Linked DNA regions of Homo sapiens: all the other regions are linked to region 2. The links come from fine-mapping of genetic effects on gene expression. A gene starts in region 2. Each other region holds a variant in brackets. All regions are shown on one strand. Distances are from middle to middle. Region 1 has its middle 42 kb from the start of LINC02292. Region 2 holds the start of CLMN (calmin). Region 3 overlaps LOC107984710 (a long non-coding RNA gene). Region 4 overlaps CLMN (calmin). Region 5 overlaps CLMN (calmin). Region 6 overlaps CLMN (calmin). Region 7 overlaps CLMN (calmin).

What was found. PIP is the estimated chance that this variant, and not a neighbour inherited with it, causes the effect.
Region 1: its variant is fine-mapped to the expression of CLMN in whole blood (INTERVAL, PIP above 0.99).
Region 3: its variant is fine-mapped to the expression of CLMN in whole blood (TOPMed, PIP above 0.99). The same link has a PIP of 0.9 or more in T cells, blood mononuclear cells, monocytes, monocytes after LPS and monocytes after Pam3CSK4.
Region 4: its variant is fine-mapped to the expression of CLMN in whole blood (GTEx, PIP above 0.99).
Region 5: its variant is fine-mapped to the expression of CLMN in whole blood (TOPMed, PIP above 0.99).
Region 6: its variant is fine-mapped to the expression of CLMN in whole blood (TOPMed, PIP above 0.99).
Region 7: its variant is fine-mapped to the expression of CLMN in nasal epithelium (TOPMed, PIP above 0.99).

What each region holds. Positions count from the first base shown.
Region 1 is chr14:95,369,048-95,373,164 of GRCh38, reverse strand. No RefSeq gene overlaps it. Among named protein-coding and RNA genes, the nearest start is that of LINC02292, 42 kb to the right of the region's middle. RefSeq lists enhancers at 1,231-1,783, 21-3,088, 3,040-3,539, 3,540-4,041. The variant G/A (reference allele first, on the strand shown) is at 2,137.
Region 2 is chr14:95,317,552-95,321,551 of GRCh38, reverse strand. It overlaps CLMN (calmin), which reads left to right and starts at 1,644. Exons shown (of 13, transcript NM_024734.4): 1 at 1,644-1,841. The coding sequence starts at 1,760. RefSeq lists a silencer at 1,664-1,923 and enhancers at 2,554-2,633, 2,654-2,773.
Region 3 is chr14:95,351,773-95,355,889 of GRCh38, reverse strand. All of the region lies in intron 2 of LOC107984710 (a long non-coding RNA gene), which reads right to left. Among named protein-coding and RNA genes, the nearest start is that of LINC02292, 24 kb to the right of the region's middle. The variant G/A (reference allele first, on the strand shown) is at 1,998.
Region 4 is chr14:95,183,964-95,187,963 of GRCh38, reverse strand. CLMN (calmin) reads left to right here. Exons shown (of 13, transcript NM_024734.4): 13 at 1-4,000. Among named protein-coding and RNA genes, the nearest start is that of DICER1-AS1, 28 kb to the right of the region's middle. The variant A/G (reference allele first, on the strand shown) is at 2,176.
Region 5 is chr14:95,259,793-95,263,896 of GRCh38, reverse strand. The region is part of intron 1 of CLMN (calmin); the gene reads left to right. Among named protein-coding and RNA genes, the nearest start is that of CLMN, 58 kb to the left of the region's middle. RefSeq lists enhancers at 1,980-2,606, 3,808-4,104. The variant T/C (reference allele first, on the strand shown) is at 2,227.
Region 6 is chr14:95,192,141-95,196,140 of GRCh38, reverse strand. It overlaps CLMN (calmin), which reads left to right. Exons shown (of 13, transcript NM_024734.4): 11 at 1,545-1,605; 12 at 2,222-2,292. Among named protein-coding and RNA genes, the nearest start is that of DICER1-AS1, 36 kb to the right of the region's middle. The variant A/G (reference allele first, on the strand shown) is at 1,794.
Region 7 is chr14:95,289,911-95,294,027 of GRCh38, reverse strand. The region is part of intron 1 of CLMN (calmin); the gene reads left to right. Among named protein-coding and RNA genes, the nearest start is that of CLMN, 28 kb to the left of the region's middle. The variant C/T (reference allele first, on the strand shown) is at 2,439.

The DNA of each region.
Region 1 (4,117 bases), 52 kb before region 2:
GCTGAACTGCAGGCTGAGTTGGCTCACATGGAGGTGAAATGAATGGCCCCGAGAGCTGGACGCACTGGTGTCTCTGTGATCACACTCTACTACAAGTGTGCGGCCACCTTCTCCAATCGGCCGAGTATAAAAAACAAAATTAAGACCCGCCCTGATCATTTCCTTCTTGTGGCTACCATATTTGTTTGCTTGGGCCTCGGCAACAAAGTACCACAGACTGGGGGGTGTAAACAACAGAAACTGACTTCCTCACTGTTCTGGAGGCTGGAAGTCTGAGATCAAGGTGTCAGCTGGGCTGGTTTCTGTTGAGGCCTCTCTCCTTGGCTTGCAGACGTCTGTCTTCTCCCTGTGTCCTCACATGGACTTCTCTGCGTGTATCTGTGTCCACATTTCCTCTTTTACGAGGGCATCAGTCCCATTGGATTAGAGCCCACCAGTTTGACCTCATTTTAGTTTAATTATCTTTTTAAAGACCCTATGTCCAGACTGGACACAGCAGCTCATGCCTATAATCCCAGCATTTTGGGAGGCCAAGGCAGGTGGATCACCTGAGGTTAGGTGTTCGAGACCAGCCTGGCCAACATGGCAAAAACCCATCTCTACTAAAAATACAAAAATTAGCTGGGCATGGTGGCGCACACCGTAGTCCCAGCTACTTGGGAGGCTGAGGCAGGAGAATATCTTGAACTTGGGAGGCAGAGGTTGCAGGGAGGTGGGGACAGTCATATTCTGAAGTACCTACATTCACAAGGACTTCATCATATGAATTTGGAGGGGGACATAATTCAGGTCAAACACTAATCCTGAATCTTTTTTTTTTTTTTTTTTTGAGACAGAGTCTTCCTCCATCCCCCAGGCTAAAGCGCAGTGGTGCGATCTTGGCTCACTGCAACTTCTGCCTCCCAGGTTCAAGCAATTCTCCTGCCTCAGCCTCCCGAGTAGCTGGGATTACAGGTGCCCACCACAGTGCCAGGCTAATTTTTGTATTTTCAGTAGAGATGGGGCTTCACCATCTTGGTCAGGCTGGTCTCAAACTCCTGACCTCGTGATCCACCCGCCTCGGCCTCCCAAAGTGCTGGGATTACAGGTGTGAGCCAATGCGCCGGGCCAATCCTGAATCTTTTATTACAAGCCGGCTGGCTAGTCATTTGGTTTGGTGGCCCACATGGGCTGACCTGTGGACAGCAGGGGACCCCCCGGGACAGGCACTCTCTCCCCAGGCATTGCCTTCCCCGCCTCAAACGCCAAGGTCACTCTGGCCATCTGCTGCCCAGAGCTCACTGTGAGCTTAACCCCCACTGGGGTTTTAAAATTTAAATCCCCTCGCAGAATATTATTCCCTGCACCTCTTTCCTATTCCGGGTCCCAAAGAAGGCGGCAGTCATTGAGACCCGGCCATTCAGTCCTCCCACGAGTGAGCTTGGGCTTTCAAGGTGCAGACGATCTGGAGTGGTTTGCACTTGTGTTTTAACGTCCTCCAACTCCAGAGCATTTCCCCGAGCACAGGAGAGGCCTGAGCTCCTTCCCTTCCACCTGCGTCTGCCCCATACAAAGCTCCGTTTGTGTCCCTGCGGCTGAGGAGAAACGGCTACTCCGCGCCACCTCATCCACCGACAGGCCACAAAAGCCCAAGCACGAGGTGAGGCTCAAAACAGGCCAGGCCCAGGCGCTGCCAAGCCAAACACAGAGGAAACGGGTGCGAGCCCAGCAGAGAAACCAGATTCCCCTGGAAATCGCTGCTCCCCGCCGTGTCTGGAAGGCCAGCCCCAATAAAGCGGCTCCGGAAGACCTGAAGGACCCCCATGGCCCTCATCTTGATGGAGATGCCAATAAAAATCTCAGAACATCCAGCCTGCAGGCCCTGTAGGCACTGCCCCGGGGCTGTAAACCCGGATACGAGCAGCTGGGGAGCCGGAGGGAAGAGGCCTGCTCCCAAGAAAGCCCACCAGCCAGCCCGGCCAGGCCCGCAAGTAACCGAGACGCCTTCAGGGAGAGGCAGGCAGGGCAGCCTGGACGGGAGGGAAGCCTGCAGCCGGGGCCCTGCTCCAAACCAGGTCCAAAGCTGTTAAATCCATGGGAACTTCAGGAAAGAGTAATGGCTGCCCAGAACTGCAGGTTCTTAAAGAAACCCGGGAG[G/A]AACCCGCCTCAGGAAGCAGCAACAGACCCTGCGGTTGTAAACTCAACTCGGAGGGCACCTTGGGGACACAGCTGTGCTCATGATAGAGGAGGAAGTGTGTGTGTGTGTGTGTGTGTGTGTGTGTGTGTGTCTGAATCCATGGCAAAGGACAGCCAAGTTATGCATACGTGTGCACTATTTGTGTCTCTGTATCGGGGGTGTTGTGGAGGCATATCCACAAATGTGTGTATTTGTGTGTCTGTAGCATTCTCAGATTTATCAAATAAAAATACAGGATGTCCAGTTAAATTTGAATGTAGGCAAAAAGCAAATACTTTTTGAATGTGAGTATTCCCAAATATTGCCTGGGACGTACTTATGCTAAAAAGTGCTCGTTGTTTATCTGAAATTCAAACGTAAGTGGGTGTCTTGTATTTCTCTAGCAACCCTATGTGTGCATGAATGTCTAAATTCAGAGTGACAATGACATTTGAGATCACAGAAGTGGTCTTTAATAAAGAGACAAATATATATACACACTCATATACTTTGCCTCCTTACACACACATATATAAAATGATACTATAATAGTCCTCAAAAGTTCTCCTAACAGGTGATTAGTCATTCTTTGTAAGAAGAAAATTAGGTGCCTTGTATGGTATGGTTGTAACCTAAATGCATTTAACTTGCAAATTCATCTACAGGAGCTTGCACAGACAGAGGCATAACACATGTAAATGGTGTGGTAATAGCTCCTGCTGTTCCACTCAGAGTTGAGGTTGGGAGACTTGCCTCTGCGCTCCCTCCACCATCTCAGCCCCAGACACCGCCCCAAGGGGAGCACTGGCTATCCAGGCTTCTCTAGGGCTTAAAGTCATACATATTTTTCTACCCTGTGACTCTGAAAGGTAAGCCAGTTCCTTCATTTGGGGCATCCCACAGAGACAGAAATCTGTTTGAAGGGGATGGAAAGAACTGGTTTGAACCTTCCGGACGCCAGAGGAACTGAACATTCAACACAAAGACTTTTTTTTTCCCCTTCAAAAATGGTCTGAGCTTGCAAACTCCCAAACACTAAACATCTTTCAAGGATAACTTATTCAATGGTATCACTACATGCCCCACTTGATGTAATAAACATTTCCCAGGCCATTCCTTAGCCTTTTCCTGGGTAAGGATGTGAAGGACAGGAGTTCAGGAGATGGGTAAGGCACAGGTATGGTGGGTAGGAAGAGGGGCTGTCAAACCAGACTGGGCCCTAGAAATCCTCTAGCTGAGGGATCTCAAACTGGCACCCTGCTCGCCAAGTCTGCCTGGTCAGCAGCGCACGGTCATCTTTAAATGTTTGAATTTAGTGCTTACAGGCAGGGCACGCACCCTCCATTTTCACCCCTACCCTTTACCCTCTATGATCTGAGGATCAGCTGTTTATTATACGTGGGCCGCCTGCCTGCTCCTGCGCAAGACAGACTCCATTCGTGAGGACACTGGGTCCCACACAGAGTGGGGCTCATAGCAAGGCAGGGCAGGAACTCAGGTCTCCAACTCCCAAGCCAGGGCAGGACTCTGTTTCCCCTCCATTCTGCAGCCCTCAGGCCATGGAAGAGTGAGTCCTGCTAGTTGAGAACGCAGAAGTGAGACATGATCCCTCAGTCCATGTCACCTTGGGAAGCCTCCTCAGCCGTGGTGACACTACTCTCAAATCTGAATCTGATCAGGCGGAACTCAAAGGGTTACCCTGATCCTGCTCTGTTTACAGACCTCGATCCCAGCTCCTTCATTTAATTTGGTTTTTGTTTTCCTGGTTTGTTTGCTTGTTTGTTTGAAACAGAGTCTCACTCTGTTGCCCAGGCTGGAGTGCAATGGAGCGATCTTGGCTCACTGAAACCTCCACCTCCTGGGTTCAAGCCATTCTCCTGCCTCAGCCTCCCCAGTAGCTGGGATTACAGATGCATGCCACCATGCCCAGCTAATTTTTTTATTTTTAGTAGAGACAGGGTT
Region 2 (4,000 bases):
CACAGGACGCAGAAAGAGATCCTGCTCCTTGGAGTGTGAAATGACCACAAGATTAAGAATCAAGGCAGCAGCAAGGAAGCTCCTGCCTCAAGCCCAAGCACCAAGGAGCCCCTAATGGGGCCTCCACTTCTGTCTCCACTGATCCCACCTTTCCCCGCCCAAACTGCTGTCCCTGTGGGGGTTCCTCTCCTCCTTCTGGGCTCAGCTCCAAGGTCAGTCTTTAGAGACCTCTGCTGCCCTCCACCCGCATTCACAGTTCCTTAACCCAAATTGACTTTCTCCTTTCTGGAGTCCACTTTAGAAATCTCCTTTCCTTGTTTAAGGGCCACACGATAGCCCCTGCCCCAATGGATGACTGGAGGGTAGACTCACCCTCCTTCAGGGCCCTGCCTCAAGGGCACAGGTCTGTCCTTCGGGGGACCTCCATAGTTACTGGGTAATTAGTGAGCAGCCGGGTTTCCGGGATTCATTGCTGTGAACAGAGCAGCGATGCACACAGGCCCATGTGTTTAAATGCCCAGTGAGCCCTGTCCATTTTTTTCCCCCTCTTGGAACACTGAATATTTAAAGCCATTTTCTTTGTGGCCTTAGTTGTCACAGAAAGGGCCCAAGCACTGAGCTGGGAGCAGGGGGCTGGGACTTCCTGCTCCTAAGTCATTCCTCAACCTTGGGCAAATTCGGTAACTGTAGGGTCTCACTTTTAAGGAGTGTAAACCACATGGTGGGCACCAAACAGGATAAGATCCTGGAATTCTCTAGAGTTCAACAGTGGAGGTGGGGAGGGAGGGGACCGGAAGGCCTGTCCTGGCATTTTCAGTAGTCTCCACAGGAAGTTCTGTCCTGGCATTTTCACTAATTTCCAGTGACCCCACAGAGGGTCACTTGGAGACTCAGTGGCCAGAGACCCCACAGCGTACCCCAGCTCCTAGGAGTTGGCCTGCTTCTTGTTCCTTCCTAGAAGCTGGAGTCACATTACTGGACCGGAAAAGGCTCCTAGTATCTAAACCAACGAAGAAGGCCCTTCTTTCACAGCCCCCCCGCACTTTGGAGACTCCCACAACTTTACCTCCACACTAGTTTGCCCCCCGACCCAGGCCCTCGACACTCCCCACGCAGGGCTCCCAGGATTCGGGGATGGGCAGGGCTCGGGTCCTGGTCCCTCCAAGTGGGGGCTGCCTCTCCAGAGTGGACAGGGGACCCGCGGAGGGGGTGTCTTATCCCGGACGGGAGGGAGACGCTGCCTCCTGGACCAGGTACTGGGACCCACGGGCCCACCCCCAGTTGCGTCACCCGGCCCACCGCCCCCTGAGACATCACAATCTGGGGGCCGGGACCCGCGCCTCATCACAGCCGGTTTGTAACCAAACAATCCAACCTACAAACACCCCGGAAAGAAAAAAAACACAAGCTGGCCTGACCCAGCCTCCCGCCCCTGCCCCGCCCCGCCCCGCCCCTCGCCCCTCGCCCCTCGCTCCTCAGGGCCCCCGCCCCCGCACGGGGGAGTGAGAGCGAGCCCGCCGCCCCGCACCCGCCGCCCCGCGCTCGCTCGCGCCAGCCCGCGGCGGGGGCGGCCCCGACCGCGCCGCCCGCCCCTCCCCGCCCCGCCCCGCCCCGCCCGCGCCCGCGCCCCGCCCGCGCCCGCCGCGACTCCAGCTCCGCGGCGCCCTCGCCGGGTGCGTGCCGCTCGCGCGCCCGCCAGCCAGGCTCTCCGCGCCCGCCGCCCGCGCCGCGCTGGCCCGGGCTCTCCCGCCCGCGCTTCATGGCTGCACACGAGTGGGACTGGTTCCAACGCGAGGAGCTCATCGGGCAGATTAGCGACATCCGAGTGCAGAACCTGCAAGGTAACGCAGCCCAGGCTCGCCCCGGGATGGCTGGGCGCTCGGGGGGCCCGGGGCGCCGCTCCGACACTTGGCAACTCCCCCGCGCCGCCCCCGCTCGCCGGCCGCTCGTTGTTCCTGTCACTTGCCTCGAGGTGGGAGGCTGGGGTTGGATACCCGCCCCCAAGCCCCAGGGCGGCCAGCCGCGGCCAGGTTTACAGTTGCCCAGGGGGTGGGGCGCCACACGTGTGTGTGTTGTGGGGCGAGGGCTCGCATTTTCATTAGGGGGACGTCACCACCCCCTCCAGTCACCGCTGCGAGTTTGGAGAAGTTTGTACGTGGGCTCTTGGGGGCGGTGGCCCAGGTTAGGGAGGGGAGGAGACAGTGCGACTCTGTGTGTGTGTGTGTGTGTGTGTGTGTGTGTGTGTGTGAGTTCGCGCACTTCCTAAGTACCTTCGAGGCAAGGGGAATTGAATGGTGGGCGGCGCTTCAGGGGGTGAGTTGGGGAAAGCGGGGCCAGGGGTGCGGATCGGATCGGTGGGGTCAGGCAAGCACCCAACTCCAGCGGCCACTTTGCTTAGGGAGCTGCCCCTCCCCTGCAGGATCAGGACTCTAACTGGGGAGAGGGCGAGAGCCCCACCCTTCCCCCACGCTGGCCCCCAACTCCGACCCTGCCTGGGCACAGGACACTGGGACCAAGGCTTCTACCTGGGAGGTAGCTGAGAAGAGGTGAAAGAGAAACTCCAGTGGTGGAGAGCGGCTGGGTATGGCGGTGCCACACATGAAGTGTGTTTCTCTTTCAAAAGAATTTATTCAATGTGGAAACTTAGAAAGCACAAAAATATTTGAAGGAAAAAAGTCACCCATAATTTCCCCTCCACAACCTATCCACCCAACAGACAGGTGTTCTTCATGGAACTGTATCTCCAGCTTCTTTTTTTTCATATATGGGCTTTGCAGAACTAGACAGAACACCACTTCCGGCCCTTCTTCACCCACATTGACCTGTGCAGGTGAAGTTTCTGTAGCTGCTTCCCCTGCTGGCTTGGGTTTCTAGAGGGTTCAAGGTTAGGAGTGGCTAGGAGCGAGCTGGGAGGCCTGGGCAGAGAGGCGATGGGGCTGTGGGTGCCCTCCCCCAGCCAGGGCAGCGACTTTACTGTTATAGGGTAGGGAGCCCCAGCGCTGGGGGATGGCCGAGCAGTCAAGTTTAAACATTACACCTGATTGAATGTTTCCTGGGAGCCCAGGGTCTGCCCCACCCCTAGGTTGGGCAAGGACAGTGCCGGCAGAGGTGACCTCAAAAGGACTGGGGAGCCTCCTGGGGTGGACACTGGAAACTGAGTTTGCTCTGGGCCGCTCTGATCTCTTCTGGCTGTGATTTGTGTTAAAGGAGGAGGCTTGGGCTGGGATGTTGAAAGTGATCTCTTTTGATAATAAGCCAAGTGCCTGGATCCTGTTGCCTGAGAAGAACTGACATCCTGTTTGGGGGTGGGCATTAGTGTCTTCTGCTGGACTGTGAGGGTGTGAGTGTGTGTACCTGTCTGTCTTAGGCAACCATTGAGTGTTTAATAAGCACATACTAACCAATGCTTCGTGCAACAAGTTCCTGCATTCCTCTAGGATTAGCTCCTGGTTTAGAGAAGATTGATTGTTGTGAAGAGATGCCCCGCAATATGAACATTAGGTTACAACCAGAACGGTGGGAGAAGGCTTTACAGAATAGGGACAATTTGAGATGGGTCCTGGAGGTTGGGTAGGAGTTCACTGAGTAGGCTCCTCTCCCTCAGCTCCCAGTGAACTGTCCTCACTTTTAGGCAAACATCAGTTACAATTTAAGCATCAACAGGCTTTGCCATTAAAAAAATAAATTTTTAAATGTATGTATATGTTTAAATGTGCACTTATTAAGTTCAACAAAACTTTATGTATGAGTACATCTATGTAACAACCACCCAGATCAAGATGTAGATTTCCAGTACCCTAGATGGTCGATTCATCTTCTTTCTCAGCCAATAACACTGCCCCCTGACCACCAAGGGAGCAAACTTGATCCATTACTGAAAGTTAGTTTTGCCGCTAGAACCTGATATACAACTGGATCATACAGTATGTACTCTGGCCTTTTTTTTTTTTTTCCCAGCATTGTGCTGGTGTGATTCCTCTGTGCTCTCGCCTGTATCTGG
Region 3 (4,117 bases), 34 kb before region 2:
CACCAGGGGGTGCCAGGGGTGATGTTAGGAACTTTCAATATATTATGTCCTTTAGGCCCTACAGCAGTCTGGAGATTCAATGCAACCTCATTTCACAGGTAAGGAAACTGAGTCCACAGAGGTGAGGTACATTGCCCAAGGTCATGATACTCCTAAGTGGCAAACCTAGGATTTGAACCTCGGTCAAGTCAGACTCTGTGGCCCATCTCCATTTCATTACATCATACCATCTCCTGGGAAGTAAACAAAAGAGGTGTTTGAATGGAAACGCACAGACCTCATTCACCAGAGAGTCTGCCAGAGCCACTGATTCTGGCTGTTATACAATTCTCACAAGTATGATTATTCGATCTCCTGGCTCACAGACAATGGGAAACATCAAATAAGTAGGAGAGAAGGCTACAGAAGGAAGCATACAGTGTGACAAGTAGCTATGGAAGCCAGGGTTCCAGGTACAGTAAATGGTGGGGTGGCTTGAATCTGACCAAGCCTCCTGATTGTAACCATTAAAATCTCTGAATAGCAAATTTTTAAAAAACCATTTGAAGGCACTGGAATGCAATTCAGAACTGGTGGGAATACAACTCTTGGGAAAAAAAGAAAGCATATAATTTTATGATTTTCTCAAAGAAAAAGCTTTTGTTTCATTCTCTCCTTTTTAATTTTTTATTTGTATATTTTTGGGGGGTACAAGTGCAGGTTTCTTCCATGCATATATTGCATAGTGGTAAAGTCTGGGCTTTTCCTATACACATCATCTGAAGAGTGAACATTGTATCCAATAGGGAATTTTCTATCCCTCACCCCCATCCCCACCCTCCCATGTTTCATAATCTCCAATGTCTACTATTCCACTCTGCATGCCCCTGTGTACCCATCATTTAGCACCCACTTATAAGTGAGAACATGCAGTATTTGACTTTGTGTTTCTGTCTCCTCTTGGCTTTTCAATGTCACTGATACCTAATTTTACTTTATTATTTCCTTTCTTCTTTTTACTTTGGACTTGATTTGCTCTCTCTTTTCTTGTTTCCTAAGGTAAAAGCCTAGGTCATTGCTTCGTGACCTTTCCTCTTTTTTTTTTTTTTTGAGACGGAGTCTGTCTCTCTCACCCAGGCTGGAGTGCAGTGGTGCCATCTCGGCTCACCGCAAGCTCTGCCTCCCAGGTTCACACCATTCTCCTGCCTCAGTCTCCCAAGTAGCTGGGACTACAGGTGCCCGCCACCACACCTGGCTAATTTTTTTGTATTTTTAGTGGAGACAGGGTTTCACTGTGTTAGCCAGAATGGTCTCAATCTCCTGACCTCGTGATCTGCCCACCTTGGCCTCCCAAATTGCTGGGATTACAGGCATGAGCCACCAAGCCTGGCCCTTTCCTCTTTTTTAATGGCAATTCATGCTATGAATTTTCCTCTGAGCACCACTTTAGCTGCATCTTGCAAGTACTGATAATGTCAGTTTTTATTTTCATTCACTTTGAGTTACTTTTGATTTCTTCTTTTTTTAATTTTTTTTATTATACTTTAAGTTCTAGGGTACATGTGCACAATGTGCAGGTTTGTTACATATGTATATATGTGCCATGTTGGTGTGCTACACCCATTAACTTGTCATTTACATTAGGTATATCTCCTAATGCTATCGCTCCCCTCTCCCCCCACCCCAATTTTTAAATTTTGTGGGTACATAGTAGGTGTATATATTTATGGGGTACATGAGATGTTTTGATATGGGCAACTTTTGATTTTTGCTTTGGCCCATGCATTACTTAGATGTATATTATTTTGTTTCTAATATTATGTCATTTTCCAGATGTCTTTTGGGTATTGATGTCTAATTTGTGAGCACAGAGCAAATTTTGTAAAGTGGGGGTTCATTTACATTTATCAAGACTTGTTCTGTAGCCCAGAATATGGCCTACTTTGGTACATATTCCATGTGCGTTGGAGAGGAGTGTGTATTCTGTTGTCCTTGGGTGAAGTGTTTTATAAATATCA[G/A]CTAAGTCACGCTGGTTGATAGCGTGCCATCTGTTGTTTCCTTTTCCTCTTTTTCTGCCGTCTTTTAGGTTGAGCTTTTTTTTTTTTTTTAATGGAGTTTCGCTCTTGTTGCCCGGGCTGGAGTATAGCGGTGTGATCTCAGCTTCGCTGCAACCTCCACCTCCTGGGTCCAAGTGATTCTCCTGCCTCAGCGTCCCAAGTAGCCAGGACTACAGGTGCCTGCCACCACGCCCAGCTAATTTTTGTATTTTTGGTAGAGATGGGGTTTCACCATGTTGGCCAGGCTGGTCTTGAACCCCTAACCTCAGGTGACCCTCTCATCTCAGCCTCCCAAAGTGCTGGGATTACAGGTGTAAGCCACTGTGTCCGGCTGAGAATTCTTTTATGATCCTATTTTATCTCTTGTGGGCTTCTTGGCTACCCCTCTCTGTTTTCTTTTAGTGGTTGCTTTAGGGTTATAGTACACATTTTTCCCTTATTACAATCTACCTTCAAGTGATATTATAACACGACATGTGCTATATGAAAACTTTATAACAGTATACTTCCATTTCTCCTCTCCTGGCCATTGTTCTAATTTGTCATATATTTTTACTTCTATGTATGTTATAAACTCCACCTTACAATATGTTAGTTGATAGTAGTTTTACTTTTAATAATTACCTTTTAAAGGATTTATTTATTTATTTATTTATTTATTTATTTATTTTACAGAGAGGGTCTTGATCTGTCACCCAGGCCATCTTCCCACTTCAGCCTCCCAAATATCTAGAACTAGAGGTGTGCACCACCACACCTGGCTAACTTTTTTTATTTGTGTTTATTTTTGTAGAGACAAGGTCTTGCTATGTTGCCCAGGCTGGTCTCAAACTCCTGGCCTGAAGCAATCCTCCTGCCTCAGCCTCCCAAAGCACTGGGATTACAGGCATGGACAACATTGCCAAGCCGTTAAAGGGATTTTCTAAAAGAAATAATATATTTTATATTTACCAACATACGGTATTTATCACTTCTAAAGCTCTTCACTATTTTAAACAGACAGACCATACCAAGTATTTCTAAGGATGGAGAGCAATGTAGGGTGTCCAGCACTGCTGGTGGGCATGTAAAATGGAACAGCCACGTTGGAAGCACAGTTTGGTGGTTTTTATAAAAGCTAAATACATACCTACATATGATTCAGCCATTCCATCCCTACATATTTACACAAAAGAAATGCAAGCACGGCTGGGCATGGTGGCTCATGCCTGTATTCCCGACACTTTGGGAGGCTGAGGCGGGCAGATCACTTGAGGTCAGGAGTTCAAGACTAGCCTGGCCAACATGGTGAAACCCTGTGTCTACTAAAAATATGAAAACTAGCTGGGCGTGGTGGTGGCACCTGTAGTCCCAGCTACTTGGGAGAGTGAGACAGGAGAGTCGCTTGAACCCAGAAGGCAGAGGTTACACTGAGCCAAAATCCCGCCACTGCCCTCCAGCCTGGGTGAAGGTGAGACTGTGTCTCAAAAAATAAAAAAAGAAGGAAAGAAAGAAAGAAAGAAAGAAATGCCAGCATATTTCCACACAAGGATCATTACATGAATGCTTATAACAGTTTTATTTTTAATAGCTAAAAACGAGAAAAAGCCCAGGGGCCCATCAGCAGATGAGCAGATCAACAAACGGTGGTGCATCTATATAACAATAAAAACAGGCACGTAGTCAAGCAGGGATGCCTGTGGCACCCCGCAACAACATGGATGAAGTGCGTAGCTATCATGCTGGGAGGAAGAGCCAGAAAAAGAAAAGATGCATGAAATTCCAGAAAATGCAAACCAATCAGAAAGCAGAGAGAGAGGAATGGCTTTCAAAGTAGCCCAAGGAAGCTTTTGGGGATGGTGCCCTTTGTATAGTCATAAACCTATGTCAAAACTCCTCCAGGTTTACATTTTAAATATGTGTGATTTATTGTATGGCAATTATACATCAATAAATCTGTAAAATCTATTGAATGGGCTTAAAGCAGATCAGAAGTGGCGGAAGAAATGAGCATGACCTTGAAAAAAACACACGATGTAATGATCTGAACTGAGAAAATAATATTGAAAAAAATAAGGAAGAGCATCTCAGTAATTAGTGGG
Region 4 (4,000 bases), 130 kb after region 2:
TACTCATGTGGTTTCAAAAATGGTGTCCCATCTGGGCAGAAGTCCCCATGAGCACTTGGCTTGACTGGCAAAGGACACCTTTTGCCCCTTCCTCCAGACATACCCAGCTCTGAGCTTGGACAATGCTCGAGGAACAATGAAAAGGCTAGATTTTAACTCCTAATTGCCCTCTTTAGCCAAGTGCCTCTGTGCAATGCACAACTGTAGGACCATATCCAGAGACCCTGGTCTATACTCAGTGTGCCCGAGTCCTGACCGCTGAGCAGGCAGCCTCATCACCCGTGAGTATTTAGACTTTCATTAAGTTGCTTCAACCTTTGCTGTGCCTGGTGTCCCTGAGTTGGAGCTGCTCTGATTTCTCCATGGAGTAGGAGCACAGTGGTCATCTGGCTGCATGGGAAGGACAGGGGACCTCAGAGCCAATAAATGCCCTGGTCTTCAGCCCCATGTCTCACCCCATCCCTCCTATTCCAATCCCCAAGCCTCTCCTGGAGGCCACAGGGCATCTCTGCTGACCACTCTGTGGCCTCCCCTCTGCAGGCATGTGGTTTTAGGATCCCCCTCCCTGCTCACTTTTCCATCAGTTCCATTCCTGCATAAATAGGTTGCTAGCTCTTGCTTACTGTTCTCTTCTGTATTCTGTGTTCATGGTTGTATTAATATAACTTTCATTCCTCTGCTCCTATTTTCATGGGGTTTCATGAGGGAAGAAACAGGCTCATGTGTTCAGTATACCATCTTGATCCATAAACCCCATTTGAGTTATCTCACAGGTTGCTTAGGGGGCTTGCTGCTCTGACTGGTTTGTGAACGTGCCCTGAGTCCAGCTGGGACTGCAGCAACATCCATCCTGTTGAGCTGTGGTCTGCTAAGTGATTTTGTGTAATGCTGTGCCAAGTGCAGGAGAGGGATACATAGCATGGCTAAGCTCTGCTTGAATGCCATGATTAGTTATTACCTTCCTTCCTTCCCCCTGGTTTTGCTGCCTATTGTCAGTAAATGATCTTAGATCTCCTGCCTCCCCAAAGATATAGTCTATGTGGTGGTCTGGGTTCTAGGTTTTCTTTACCACCCTTGCTTCACTTAAGAAACAGAAAACTGGCTAGGCACAGTAGTGGCTCACACCTATAATCCCAGCCCTTTGGGAGGCCAAGGCAGGAGGATCGCTTGAGGCCAGGAATTCAAGACCAGCCTGCACAACATAGCAAGACTCCATCTCTACAAAAAGTTAAATTTAAATTAGTGGTGGCATACACTTATAGTCCCAGCTACTCAGGAGGATGAGGCAGGAGAATTGTTTGAGCCCATGACTTTGAGGTTACTGTGAGCTATGATCCTGCTATTTTACTCCACCTGAGTGACAGAGCGAGACGCTGTCTCAAAAATAAAGAAACAAGTAGTCCACACAGGTGTTTGCCAGCAAACAAACAGCGCGGATTCTCTGTTGAACGTGGCCAACATTGCCTCGTCGAAGTTTGTATCTTGCCATAGTTGATGATCAGGTGGTCGGGGCTTCCTGGTCAGACCTGACCTTTGTGGGGAGATGTTCTCCCACCAAGGCTCAGAAGCAGGACACTCTTGCTGCCCCTCGGGCAGCCACCCAGAACATGGGCGTCTCCATTTCTGAGGTTCAGCATAGTTCCCCCCACCCTCTTCCCATGCAGTGCATGCCTGCTCTTTATCAGGATGGAACAGAGGGAAGGCAGAGGCACTGGGGGCAGCCTGTGTTGTTGATCTCTGTAAGTCACAGACTGTTCGAAAACCTCAGGAATTATGTAAGCGTTCAGTGCCTCATTTAAGAGATGAAAAACTGAAGATTAGAAAGAGGAAACGACTAGTCGCCCTGCTAGTTGATGACCTCCAGATAGCCATCTTCATTCCCAGTTAAGTTTACTACAAAACCACAGCCTCAGCTGCTGAAGCTAACCTCCCTACCCACCATCGCTAGGGACTCAGAACACCATGGAGCTCATCTCTCCAACAAAAGTCAGAATTAGCAAGTACAGATGTGTCTTACGAAAATGTCAGAATCCATCATGGCTGCTTTGGTGAGGAGCTGTTCTCCTTCCGTGGTCATGCCATTGGAAGGCAGTTGTATGACAAGAATGCTTTCACATGAGCTCCGATTTTCTTAACTCTCCAGAAGGACTTCAGAAGCCTCTGGAGTTTTGAGAC[A/G]CGGCCTCTCTCTCCCTTCTGCTTGGAGACACCTTCCTGGGGGTCTCCACTGCATTCCCCGCCGGTATTCCTCTGTGGAGCCTTGCGCCCTCAGGTCCCAGAAATGGGCTGTGTGGGAGCTTCCAGTCAGCCTGGTATCTCGGGACCTTCTCAGCCAGGAAATGAGACTGCACAAAGCCCTGTGAGGCCCAGCTGTGTTATTTCTCCTTCCCCGACATTGCATAATCACTGCTGACACAGCATTTGGGGAAGATTTAACGTCTTGGGCCAGCAGCTGCCATCTGGAACCATCACCACATAGCAGGTTGTTCTGTCCCATCCAACTGATGAGGGGGCTGCCCTAATGACAAGGTCCAGGACCTGGGTTGGGTGGTGGAAGGCTGGGAGCTGGAGTGGGCATTATTGTGCTTCTGTGCTGAAAATTGCTATGGCTCTTTTCCCCTAACAGCCAGCGTGGGAGAACCAAACATGAGACACAAGCATCCCCTTGAGCTCCACAGATCTTGCGCCTTGCTCTCATCAGGCATTTCCTTGGAAAACAGCAGTCAGCAGCTCATGGAAGTGAGCCCGGTGCACAGACTTTGCATGGACTTTGCACAGGTTCCATTTCCATCGTGTGCAGACACCTGTATCTTTGGGCTCCACGTGAGCACCTGCCCTCTTCACTCTGATTTTTTTTTTAAGAGACAGCATCTTACTCTGTCACCGAGGCTGGAGTACAGTGGTGTGATCACAGCTCACTGCAGCCTGAAACTCCTGGGCTCAGGCAATCCTCCTGCCTCAGCCTCCCAAGTAGCTGGTAGTACAGGTGCATGCCACCACGCCCACCTAATTTTTTTATCTTTTATAGATACAGGTCTCACTGTTGCTCAGGCTGGTCTCGAACTCCTGGCCTCAAGTGATCCTCCTGCCTTGGCCTACCAAAATGCTGGGATTATAGGCATGAACCACTGTGCCTGGCCTTCACTCTGATTTTTCTTAAGAGTCCTACAGGACCTTCAGGTCTTGTCACTTCTCTACCATTGTGTGTGAGACAGGGCATGGGGTGAGCTTGGTCAGGTGTGGGTCAAAAGCCTGGAGACTCAGAGCTGCTGGTTCCCCAAGAGCCCACAAAAGTTATCAGAGTTTCTGAGCTGAGTGTTCTGCAGTTGCCAGACCCCACAATGCTGGGAATACTGGCTTCTTTGTGTTTAGAACTTGTTCTGAGAACCTTGATGAGAACACATCAAGCAAGCAGTTCCTCCCAGCCAGGGCTGGAGCAACATGCCAAAAAACATTCTTGTCTATGGGAAAAAGACAACCAGTATTTTGTACTGTTTGACCAAGTTGTTTTTAAATATACACATGCCTCAACAATCCACGGCCTCAATCGCACTGCTAATTTGTTTAAATCCCTGACACTCAGATGTCAAGAATAGCTTCATCTAGCAGTGTTCTCTTTAAAGGAACCCTTTTTTTTGTTTTCATTTTAATCACTGCCTTCTTCTCTGGGAGGTATTGTGGGCTAGAGAAAGAAGTCAGGTTTGGGAGTCAGCCAGATTTAGATTGGAGTCCCAGCTCTGTCACCAGATCTCTGGGTGATCTTGGCAAACTAACTTCTGAGCTTCTGTGCATTATAGGCATTCAGCACATATTTGTTGGATGAAAAATACTTTTCTTGAAAGTTTATGAAGTTGTAGGATGCCCAGCAGCCCCCTTTTCTCTATTTCCTTCCTCTTGAAGCAAGCGTTGACTATACCTCTTTCCCTAACCCTTAGTGTACCATAGCTTCTTCCAACCTCTCTCCAATCCATTACTTTTTTCTGAGCTACCCTGTCTCAAATCT
Region 5 (4,104 bases), 58 kb after region 2:
ATAACCGACACTCACTGGGCATTTGCTGTGCCAGTCACTTGTGTGAGTTCTTCACAGGCACTAACTCATTTAATCCTCACAACAACCCCCCAAGGTGGGCACTGCCATTATCCCCATTTTCCAGAAAATTGAGGCACAACTTACAAAATGTATCCGAGGTTTCCTTTCTTCTCCCAGCCACCCCCACCTCATCTCTTTGGCTGCTCTAGGCTCTGCAAAGCCTGTCTCATGCCCTTCCAGCTGGAACATCCAGTTATGCTACCTGTGAATTCATATTCCAAGTAACGTTTAGGGCTCCATTGCCAAACTCCTGCATTGAGGTGAAGTGGGCAGATGCCTCCCGCTCCTTTTCCTGGGTCACACCGGAACCCTTTTGCTAGGTGGATGTGGCTACTTCATTCCCTCATCAGTGTCTGGATCTTTCAGGCTTGTAGGTGCCAGACCCCAGTGGGTAATAGGGTTTGGCTGTGTCCCCACCCAGATCTCATCTTGAATTGTAGTTCCCATAATCCCCACGTGCCATGGGACCAACCTGGCGGGAGGTAATTGAATCATGGGAGCAGTTACCCCCATGCTGTTCTCCTGATAGTGAGAGAGTTATCATGAGATCTGATGGTTTTATAAGGGGTCTTTTCCCCTTTGTTTGGCACTTCTCCTTGCTGCTGCCACGTGAAGAGGACGTATTTGCTTCTCCTTCACCTTCCACCATGATTGTAAGTTTCCTGAGGCCTCCTCCGCCATACTGAACTGTGAGTCAATTAAACTTATTTCCTTTATAAATTAGCCAGTCTCGGGTATGTCTTTATTAGCAGCATGAGAACAGACTAATACAGGGAGCCACATATGCGCTGGGCAGTTGGTTTGGGTGGCACAGGCTGAGCCTGGGAGCCACTGTCACTGCAGGGTGGTTAAGAGCTGTGCTCTGAGACCATGGCCTAGTTTTGCTCCTACCTCCCAGAAGAACAAGCTGCGTGGCCTTGGACACATGACTTGACTCTCTGAGGCCAACTTTCTCATCCAGAAAATGGGGAGGCTGGGCACAGTAGCTCATGCCTGAAACCCCAGTACTTTGGAGGTCAAGGCAGGAGGATTGCTTGAATCCAGGAGTTTGAGACCAGACTGGGCAACATAGGGAGACCCTGTTTCTAGAAAAAATACAAAAATTAGCCGGGCATGGTGGCACATACCTGTAGTCCCAGCTACTCGGAAGGCTGAGGTGGAAGGATCACTTGAGCCTGGAGAGGATGAGGCTGCAGTGAGCCATGATCACACCACTATACTCCAGCCTGGACAATAGAGTAAGATCCTGTCTCAAAAATAAATAAATAAATGAAATGGGAAAAAGAGTAGGCCCTACCTTGAACTTACCAAGATTGGATACGATACTGTCTCTAAAGCCCTAAGCACAGTGCCTGCCTGACACATAACAAGTGCTGCAGAAGTGGTAGCTATTTTTATTAGGCATTTCATAAATGTCACGTGGATATCTTTTGGTTGACTCTTTGCTTGTTCTAGATTATTTTTCAGGTCGCTGCTTGCTGAGTTGTCCTCTGGTCACTGGGAATGTATTTATTTTGTTGTTCTTCTGTTGAACAGAACAGCTGGCAGAGTGGTTTTCAGTAGCCAGGCCAAAAACTCAGTGAACCCCAGCGCAGGTACAGGGCTCTGAGAAAACATCAGCTCAGTGAGAGTCCCCTGGAGCCCAGCTCTGAGAATAGCTTTAATGCTTTTGAACAGGTGATGACATCGGGTTGCTGGCTGTCCAAACGATGTGGGGAGACACGTGGAGAGTTCAGATTGATTTGCCAGGATGTTTGGGAGCATTTGGGAATACAGGCGTGGACGCTGGCCCAGCCCCAGCGCCTGTCAGCCAGGCACAGCCAGGCCTTTGATGCGGGCCCTCCTGAGCCCAGAGCCAAGCTGCCGCTTGGAGGAAAAATTTCCAGGACAGGCATCTGGGGGACAAAGCTGCTCGCAGGTTGTCAGGACTCATTCCCTCTGAGTGAGGCTGATGGATACTCATAGAGGCCAGGGACGCAGAAGCCAGTGATGACTTCCAGGTTCTTGCTGCAGGGGGGCATGGGCTGTGGGGATCCCCATGTCATCTGGGGCATAACTGCCCAATGGGCAGATGAGAGGAGCGGGTGGACCTGTGGGCATCTTGGGAAGGCCAGGCTTGGAAGAGCCATCCTTCCCGACAGCAGTTGTGTGGTCTCCAGGTCGCAA[T/C]GCAGAGGCACAGGTCCTCTAAAACTGGTGACTCTCACTGCTGAGAGTGACTGCTCATTCCATTCCATTCCCTGATAAGTGTATTTTCTCTGCAGGGAATATTGCAGCCTTTCTGCACTTCAGCACTATACCTGAGGGCCGTTTTAGATAGCAAGATGCCCAGGAGAAACTACAAAAATGCAAAAACCATGGCAGTAACATGACATTTGTAGCTACAAATCCATTTTAGAGAGTAGACCAGTTTACAAAGACAGAATCCGGGAATTCACCCACTCTCTGAAATGTATTTGTGTCTCCACAATCAGTGCTCGTCTTTCACGGAGGTGCGCAAAGCGGCATAAAGTCTGAGCAGCCAGACGCGCACGTTCCCAGCGGAGGTGAAACGAGGCAATGGGCCTCGGCCTTCTGCTTCAGCTCTCAAACTATAAATAAGTGTCCTTTCCACAGCTTACTTAGTGCCACTTTTTTTTTTTTTTTTGCATTTGTGTGCTTTCTCTCGGTGATCTTGCCGTTTAAAACAGCCCCCAGTCAGAGTCCGGAAGTGCAGAAAGGCTCTGACGTTCCTTGCGGAGAAAATACATGTGTTCAGTAAGCTTCGTTCAGGGATGAGTTACAGCGCTGTTGGCCATGAGTTCAGTGTTAGTGAGTCATCAATGCATATTCAATAAAGTCTCCTTAGACAGAAACACACATGAAACAAGAGTCAAGGGTATGTATTGGTTGGTTGGAAAAAATTTGTAACCAGAGGTTTGCAGGAACCTAATACTGTATTTCCACAAAAACAATGATTCAGTATTCACAAGTCAGGGTTGACCACAACTTCATAGAATATCATACTGTGAATGATGAGAATCAACTGTATTTCATTTGGACAATGGAGATAAACTGGGTTGTGTAGTCACTCAATACCTGAGTCAAAGACACTTCCACCAGGAAGCCTCCCATGGTCACACCAGCCTCCAAGGATCGTTTCCCACCCACACCAACTCACCCCACAATATGTATTGTGTTTACCATTGATTTCACATTTGACATGGACTGTAAGATATTAGTCACACTTCCCACAAGCCTTCTGTTATTGTGTGTCAAAATCACAAGCTCCCTGAAGACTAAGGATGTGTCTAAGATAACGTCTCCACTCATAGCAGGCAATATTGTAAGTGCTTGATTCTTTCAACAAACATTTTATTCAGTAATTTGTTTGTTGGATCCATTCTTTTTTTTTTTTTTAGACAGAGTCTGGCTCTGTTGCCCAGGCTGGAGTGCAGTGGCGCCATCTCGGCTCACTGAAAGCTCCGCTTTCTGGGTTCACACCATTCTCCTGCCTCAGCCTCCCGAGTAGCTGCGACTACAGGCGCCCGCCACCTCGCCCAGCTAATTTTTTTGTATTTTTAGTAGAGATGGGGTTTCACCGTGTTAGCCAGGATGGTCTCGATCTCCTGACCTCGTGATCTGCCTGCCTCGGCCTCCCAAAGTGCTGGGATTACAGGCGTGAGCCACTGCGCCTGGCTTTTTGATCCATTCTTCTAGTGAACCAATATGCAGGACAGAATGAATGAATGAATGATATGCTTACTGAACACCTGCCATGTGCCAGATGCCCACAGGAGGATGCAGAGTCGTGGGTGCTGCAATAGCAGGGAGTGGAAAGGAAGTGCCACCCCTATCTTAGGGAGGGCAGCCAGAGGAATTTGACGAGCAGGTGGAGAAGTGCAGGGAGAGAGTGCCAGACAGCAGGAACAGCGTGTGCAAAGGCCTGGAGCCCCAGGCAAGCAGGCATATTCAGGAGCCACCAAGCGCAAGGGAATAGCCGTCCAGGTGGGTGTGGGGAGAGGAAACGCAGGTGCAGCTGGCCATGCATTTTAATGCTGAAGAGTC
Region 6 (4,000 bases), 130 kb after region 2:
AGGTTGACCAGACTTCACTTTATAAGCATCTTAATGACTTCAAGCATATCCACCTTTCCACCAAGGAGACCATTAATGTCTGGCACGTGGAAGCTGGACATCTCATTAATATTATGGCTTCTTCCACAATTCCCATTCCAAGGAAGTAGGGATGCTTGATTTAGCTTGGGAGAAGGAGGGAGCAGGGAGGATAATGAGATTTAACTGATCTACAGGAATCTCATAGCACACCTCTGCTCTGTCACTCCAAGGCCACCAGATGAGCCAGATTTGTCCCAGGGAAAATGTGTAACTGCTGAAAATCAGAAGACCCTGGTCTCTCCCCTCTCTCATCGTCACAATAGTCAGTCAGTGTTGATCAAGCCCTTACTGTGCCCAGGAACTTCACATTCATTTTCTCATTCATTCTCACGTCACCTATAGACACATTGGTGGGACTGTGCCTCATATGGCAGACAAAGAAGGTCAGGGGGCCAGGTAACTTCCCCAGCTTAGGGAGTCTTGGACTCAGATGTGTCCCACTCCACATTCCACATTCTTTTTGTGCCCCCTTGTTGCCTGTGATGATGTAATACAAGCTGCAACAGAAAACTATTGAGGTATGCATTTGGGGAGGGGTAGGGAGAAGCCCATACAGACAGAGCCAGAGGAGTTGCTGGCAGGTGCCTGGCTTTCCACCTCCCTCTGCCTTGCTTCTGTGCCTGGACTTTGGGGAAACAGAGGCAGGGGGAGGAGGGCCAAGGCACAACAGAAGGCTGCTGCCCACTTGGCCTTTGACTCCCAGCGTGCCTGTCCCTGCCCCTGGGTGTGACTGTCTAGCAGTCATCTATGATCTTCTCATGTCGCTGGGCTCTGCTGTCAGTGCAGGTGAGCACTTTGGACAAACAGTGCAGGGGATTTGCCCAACTGCTCAGCTTCTCCCTAAGCAGATTAATTCTCAAAGAGTCCTTGAGCAGCCACTATGCAATGGAGTCTGCTAGGCCTGGGGACTTCAGGAGAGGGAGAAAGAGGTCAGCCACAGGGGTGATTCAGGCGGGGCTCCATCCTTCAAGGAAATAGGACGTTACCCTCCATTCCGCTAGGACTGGGTGGAATGTGAAAAGTGCGAGGCAAGCATTCCCACTTGTACATTTTGGACCTCAGACGCAGGTAGAGAGAGTCAGGGCAGCCTGGTCTAGGCCCAGGTCTGACTAATTGCAGAGAACCTCTGGTGAGTCCCAGCACATCAGGATGCTTGGGTTACTTCCTGCTCCAAATGCTTTGATTTTTAAGAATATGTGCCTTGCTTTCTATTTAAAATCCTGACTTTGATTTTTCTTGTAGATGAGGGCCCAATGTGTGTATCACTAATATCCATCCTATTTGTAAGCACTGTCCAACCAAAGTAGGCATGTTAGATATAAAATCTGTCATTTCTGTCCCTGGCTGTGAAGTTGTCGCTTGCCTAAACCCATACGTGGAAACCCCAGGATGGGGGTGACCGTACAACTGAGCCATGAAGAGCTCCAGGTGGTACCAATTCAAAACATGTGTTTGTTTTTCAGGACTAGTCACAGTGACTCCAGCATTTACCTTCGACGACATACTCATAGGTCTTCGGAATCGGTTAGTATGTGAATTTCTTCTCTTTCCGCACGGCCCCTGCTAATCAATTCCTTTCCATCCTTCCTCCTCCCCAGCCCAGAGCTTTGAAATTACTGGCATGCAACAGCTATACTTTTGGATAGAAGACAAGCAGATTGGAACCTTATCATTAAGCACAGTCCGATCGGATATCCGGTTTGGGCAATAAG[A/G]GATGTAAATAAAGTGAGGATTTTAAAGCCCAAAGGCCTCCTTGCTATAAAAACGCACCCAAAACGCCTCACCTGGACCCCGCGCGCACCCAGAAGGATCACGTTCAGAGACAGAGGTGCAACATGAGTCAAGGTCCGATGGACAGTGGCACGTGCTCAGTAGCAGATGTGTTAGAACCCGGAGCAGCACACCCCAATCCGGGTTCCGGGTGGTGGGGTCTCTCGCACTCACAAGGGAGGGGCTTAGGGGAGGAGGTAGAGGAATGTATATTGTTTAGCACTTTGATTTTGGATCTAGACGCTGGCGGTATTGAGAAATGCCCGGCATGCTCGGCTTTGTGTGTTTAAAATCGTTTTATCTTCTGTTTCAGAGATTTCATCTTTACTAATTGGGTTGCGGGGGCTTTTGTTTATAAATTTCACTGTAGGATCATTTTAGCTATGTTCAGTTGAGGAACGCAGCAGATCTGGATGACAGAAGAAACCGAATATTAACCAGGTTGGTGGCTTTACTTCAGGTTTTGTGGGGGTAGTAATAAAATGTTTTTACATTCTGCAGCCTGCCTTACAGGGGTGGTTATTCTCCCACTGCTTTGTTGATAACAGTATTAATAATTTGGGATAATGCAAGAAAATAACTATTCCAGAGAAAATGATGTAAATTGAATATGAGTAGAAAGGAAAAGTAGATATTAATTAACACTGATGGTTAGGGCCCGGTTCCGAAAATGAGTCAGTTTAAAGACGGGTCTGGGTTCTGAGCCTGCAGCTGTGTTTAAATGAGTGGTATAGAGTATAGGGTGGTTTAGTGGTATAGGGTAGTTAGCAAAGGGACGGCCAGGCAGGAGAAGAGGTGGTGGTCTTGTGAGGCTGTGTGGCCCCTGTGAATGCTGTAGCCCCTGACGCCTGTCCATTCTCTGTTGCCACTGCAGGTACAGTACTCAGAAGCTTACTGAGCTGATTTTACAGTTTTATGGCATCAGAGCAGACATGAAGAGGGAAAGCAAACATGCCAGGATGTCTATGAAAGTATTTCTTGCTGTCGGAGAACTGTTGGCCTGGCCTAATGTTGCTGAATTGCTGGAAACCTGCCCATTTAAAACATAGGAAACCAGAAAAACGTCTCAAATTCTTACAATTCTGAGACGTCCCCATTCCTGTTGAAGTCATAGAGTTGCTTTATTATGTTTTTATTTTTAAAAAATTTTATTTACTCGCCACAGATTTGAATTGGCTTGGAAGGATTTAGATTACTGGAATCGGAAGCCTCTGTCTGAATATTACCCAACACCCAAGAGTGTGGTCATTAGAACCCCATCCCTCTGGCTGCTAAAAAAGAAGCAAGACAGCTCCTTTCCCCTGCCATGAAATGGAAATACTAATTCAAGTTTTCCACCAGGCTGGATATGCTCATAGGAAAATAATCCTTTTTGCTCTTATGAGATAGAGGCGTTGAAAATAGAACCTGTAAAGTTGAGAAATGCAGTCGTGTTTTCAGTTGTCTACATTGAGCATTTATTACCTTTATAATAAAAAATATGGTTTAGGCTGCGCATGGTGGCTCACGCCTGTAATCCCAGCACTTTGGGAGGCCAAGGAGGGAGGACTGCTTGAGGCCAGGAGTTTGAGACTAGCCTGGGCAACACAGAGAGACCGTGTCTCTATAAAAAGTATATAGTTTAACTTGTTTCTGTGGACAGCTTTTTAAAGAAGACCATCATGTGGGTATTTATCATTCAGTATGTAGACTGTGGCAGATGTTTAATCCCACCCTGCCCCTCGCTCCTGCTATCAGGAGATAGTTCTGGGACAAGTGGTTTTAGCCTCTCGTAATCTCCATTACACCGCACGAAACCACCCTAAGAGGCTTACACTGCAGGCTTCTCTACATGCAGCTCCAAGCAGAGGCCCCAGCCCCAGGCAAAACCTTCTGGGCTTCCCTATGATCCGCCAGGCAAAACTGAAATGACATTTTAACACTACCACCTATAAAATAAAAGCAGGAAGGTAAATCTGACTGAAATCAAATCTAGTAATTATTTTAAAGGTAATATTCCAAAGCCAAAACAAAACTGTGGGGAATGGGAGAGGTCTTTGTTTCTTTCTGATAGATGATTTAAAATGATCTGCTATTAGGGACACTTCATCCCTTAGATGACCTATGGGGTCCCCTGCGTTACTAACAAACAGCAGCAAGCGATCAGTAT
Region 7 (4,117 bases), 28 kb after region 2:
TCCTCCTCTTTGGTGTCACCCTCCAGCCAGGCAGTGGGGCTGGCACCTTCCCTGCTGGCGTTTGGTAAGTTTTAGCTAAAACGCTAAGTGAGAGACTGAGGAGGGAGTGGGAGGGAGTTTTTCCTTGTTTTCTACTTCATGTTGCCTCATTCCGTACCACGTAGAACAACACCAGACTTGGTTTCTAGAGACTGCAGGTTTGTGTGATGGTCCCGAGACCCTTGGGAAAGGAAGGAGCCTGGACCCCATTCTCAGCCTCACAGGACAGCTCAGCCAGGGGATGTGTTGTTGCCTCAGATTTATTTTTCCATTTCACAAGCCAGAGAGGGCTGCGGGGCGGGGGTGGGTGGGAGACAGGGGGCGCAGTACACCCACATGTCTCTGCCCTTCTTATCCAGTGCTGGGGTCTGTGCAGCTCGTTCCTGCCTGCTGGGAGCAGGTGCACAGAGCCCATTCTCCTGGTCTTGAATCCATAGAGAATGACAGTGAAGATCAGAGGCTGACAGACTGCCTAGGGAGGCCTCAAGATATGTATGGTTATTTGATTTGATTTAAAAACAAGTCAGAGAAAACTTGAAAATAGGGAGGAAGGGAGGAAGGAGGTATTGAGAGAAGGAAGGAAGGAAGGAGGGAGGGAAGGAAGGAGGGAGGGAAGGAAGGAGGGAGGGAGGAAAAGAAGGAGGGAGGGAGGGAAGGAAGGAAGGAGGGAGGGAGGGAAGGAGGGAGGGAAGGAAGGAGGGAGGGAGGAAAAGAAGGAGGGAGGGAGGGAAGGAGGGAGGGAAGGAAGGAGGGAGGGAGGAAAAGAAGGAAGGAGGGAGGGAAGGAAGGGGGGGAAAGAAGGAGGGAGGGAGGGAAGGAAGGAGAGAGGGAAGGAGGGAAGAAGGGAGGGAAGGAGGGAGGGAAGGAGGGAAGGGAGGGGAGGGCAGGGATTTTCCATCTCATTTACCCTGACATAGTTATTGTCATTTTAATTTTTTTATTTCTAACCATCTCCCAAATACATTCCTAGTGGTTCTCATGGCCATGGACGGCTATGTGCAAAATTGCATTCTGCTCTGTGTCACTTACCCACTTCTTTCTCCTGCTCCGTGGTTACCCCTGGATGATCATGTTTGTGGCCGGTTGGATGTGCTGGGGTGCAATTAGCCATGTCCCTGGAGGAGCAGACCCACACCGGGCACCCGTGCTCTCACAGGCCTGCGCTTTTGGAGCTTCATCTCGCCCTCCCTGAGCTGGTTCATGTTAATTTAATCAGGCTATGCTGATTTCTCTCCAGCTCCCAGCAAATCCTAGCTCGTGGGAAAGCTGGTGTTTTTAGTGGGGGCACAAGCATAATGGTCCCCACCCTCCCCTACCACCAGCCTGGGAATCTGCAGAGCAGGTGAAGTCAGAGGGTACCGTCGGTCCCCGTGAGTGTGCAGGGCAGAGCTTGCTTAGGCTTTTGACCTGAAGTTATTTAAATTCAAGGACATTTCTTAGAGGAAGGACAAAAATCAATAAGGGAGACAGTAAGGCTTTTACTTACACCTCCTGGAGGGCCATGGAGCCTGTGACCCAAGATGCAGGGGGTGGAGGTGGGGGTGGGGGTGGGGGTGGGGGACCCTTGGGGGGCAGATCTCATTACTGGTGTTTGTTTGTGTTGTTATTTTAAACCATCCTAGGGGAGCTTATGAAATCTCTGGAGACTTTTAAAAATAGCATAGTTTCTGGTTTTAAAAGTAGTACATGTCCACTGTATAAAATATGGAAAAATACAAAATGTTCCAAATGATGCCACCCAGAAATGACTACCATTTACCTTTTGATGCATTTTCTTTTTGGGCTTTTTCCCTGTGAATGTGTCGAGTTTTAACATAAATGGTGTAGAGGGTGTTAAGGACGTGTAGTTGTGTGGAGTGAGCCGCTGAATTCTCTCCATGCCTCAGTCCCCCTATCTGTGAAATAGGCCCAAAAGTCAGACCTTCCTCTCGGGCTTGCAGTGAGGCCAGATGAGGACGTGGGAACACGTCAACCCTTGGCACAGTGCCAGGAACACAGTCAGTTCTCAATAAATGCTTGTCATTGCCATTAGCAATTTCAGTCCACCATGTATATAATTTTGGATCCTATTTTTTTTCACTTTGTGTTCTGACCTCAGAATTTTCCCATGTTTTAAATGTTGGGTAACCAGCATTTTTGGGGCTGCATGCGCATTCTTTCTGTGGCTGACTTAACTGCTGTTGGCCATCCACGGCTTCTCCAGCTTTGCATGCTTTTTGGTACCTCCTGCTGAACCTCCTTGCACGTTCATTCTTGTCCCCATTTCTGGTGATCTTAGAGGACAGATACCTAGATGTGGAAATATTGGGTCACAGGCTATGGGAATTTATCTATGGGGCTCTGAATAACGTACGCTCAGCTCACTTTTAAGGAGGAGGACAGGGCTCCCCATTCCCCAG[C/T]GAGGTTTGCTGGGGCCAGTCTGACTCCGTCTCTCCTGGAGCTTTCACCTGGGCTTGGTGTTTATTTGCAGAAGTGATAATCCCCAGCCGCACCTGCAACCTGGAGCTCTGGGGATGAGAAACAGCTCCTGTGGCCAATGATATTTCCAGGAGGATGTGTGTCTGGGTTTTTTTGGCACAGGCAGCATGCGGTCCCAGGTATTAGCCAGCCCCGAGACGCAGGAGCTGCAGGGATGCGGCTCCATGTGGGCGGGATAAATCTGTTTACAGGCCATCGCCATGGCTAGGCTGCCTGGCTCCCATTTCACAGGCGCCTGCAACAGGTGGTTTCCTGGATGGCGAGCCAAGCCCCAGGCAGACAGGAAGGCTCACGCCCAGGCTCAGCTGGGTGGGTGAATGTTGTCATCAGTAACCAGGGACGCTGTCACAGCCCGGGTTCCACTCTGGCCAGCTAAAGCTTTTTCCAAGGTGGTTTCTTTTTAAATTGTTCTTGCCCTTTGGGAGAGGAAGAAATTAAGAATTTGACAGAAGAGCGTGGTCAGCTCGGAGCCCAGCAGGTGCCTAGAAGGATATTAATAATCATAGCAGCATCAGCAGCTGCGTTCCTGGCAAGCACGTGTTTGTGTCATCTCTGCTGCAAGCACAGGAGCTCCATGTCCTTGGTATTATTAGTTATTCTGCGTCGGTATCCCTAGGCTACCACCCTTCATAGAACCAGCATTCATTGAGCACCTACTGCATACCACAGCACTAGGGTGGGGATAGGAATACTGAGAAGCTGTTCTGACGCTCGGGAGCTGAAAGCACCATAAGGAGGTCCGTGGGTTTCCTAGGGCTGCTGTAACAAACTTACACAAAGTGAGCACTTACAAGCAATGCAGATGTGGCATCTCACAGTTCTGGAGGTCAGAAACCTGAGGCAGTCTCACTGGGCTAAATTCAAGGCACTGGTAATACTGCGTTCCTTCTGAAGGCCCCAGGAGAGAATCTGTTGCCTTGCCTGTTTTAGTTTCTAGAGGGCCCTCATATTTGTTGGCTTGTGGCCTGTTCCTCCATCTTCAAAGCCAGCAGCGTCTCAACTCTCTCTGACTCTGTTTCCATCAACTGTCTCTTCTCTTCTGTCTTCTGGATCACATCTCCCTCTGTCTTCCTCTTATAAAGACCCTTGTGATTACATTTAAGGCCCTCCCTGAGACTACGGGAAAACTTCTCCATCTCAAGATCCTTAACACATCTGCAAAGTCTGTTTTTGCCACATAAAGGCAACACACAGACTCCAGGGATTGGGATCTGGACATCTTTGGGGGAGCGTCAAAGTGTGACAGAGTCACAAAGCACCACCACCCAAGAAAGAAGAGTGGGCGGGGCGGACCCAGGGCATCATGGTAAGGGTTTAGCACTAGGACCCATTGCACCTGAGTGGCTTTGCACACTGTGAAGGGCTCTGCAGGTGTCAACGAGAAACAGCCTTGGATTGGAGGCAATTTGTCTTTCATGTGAGGATTAAGGAGCTTTTCTTTTTTAAAGGTTATATTATTTTGAAGATAGAATTCCCAAAAGACATCCCCCAAAGAATGGACACTTTGCCTTGAAATGTTATAGGCTTCAGCTATTGTGTTTGATTCTTGCATGTCTTTAAACCTGTCTTAGGTGGCGATTACACACAAGGAGGCCAACCC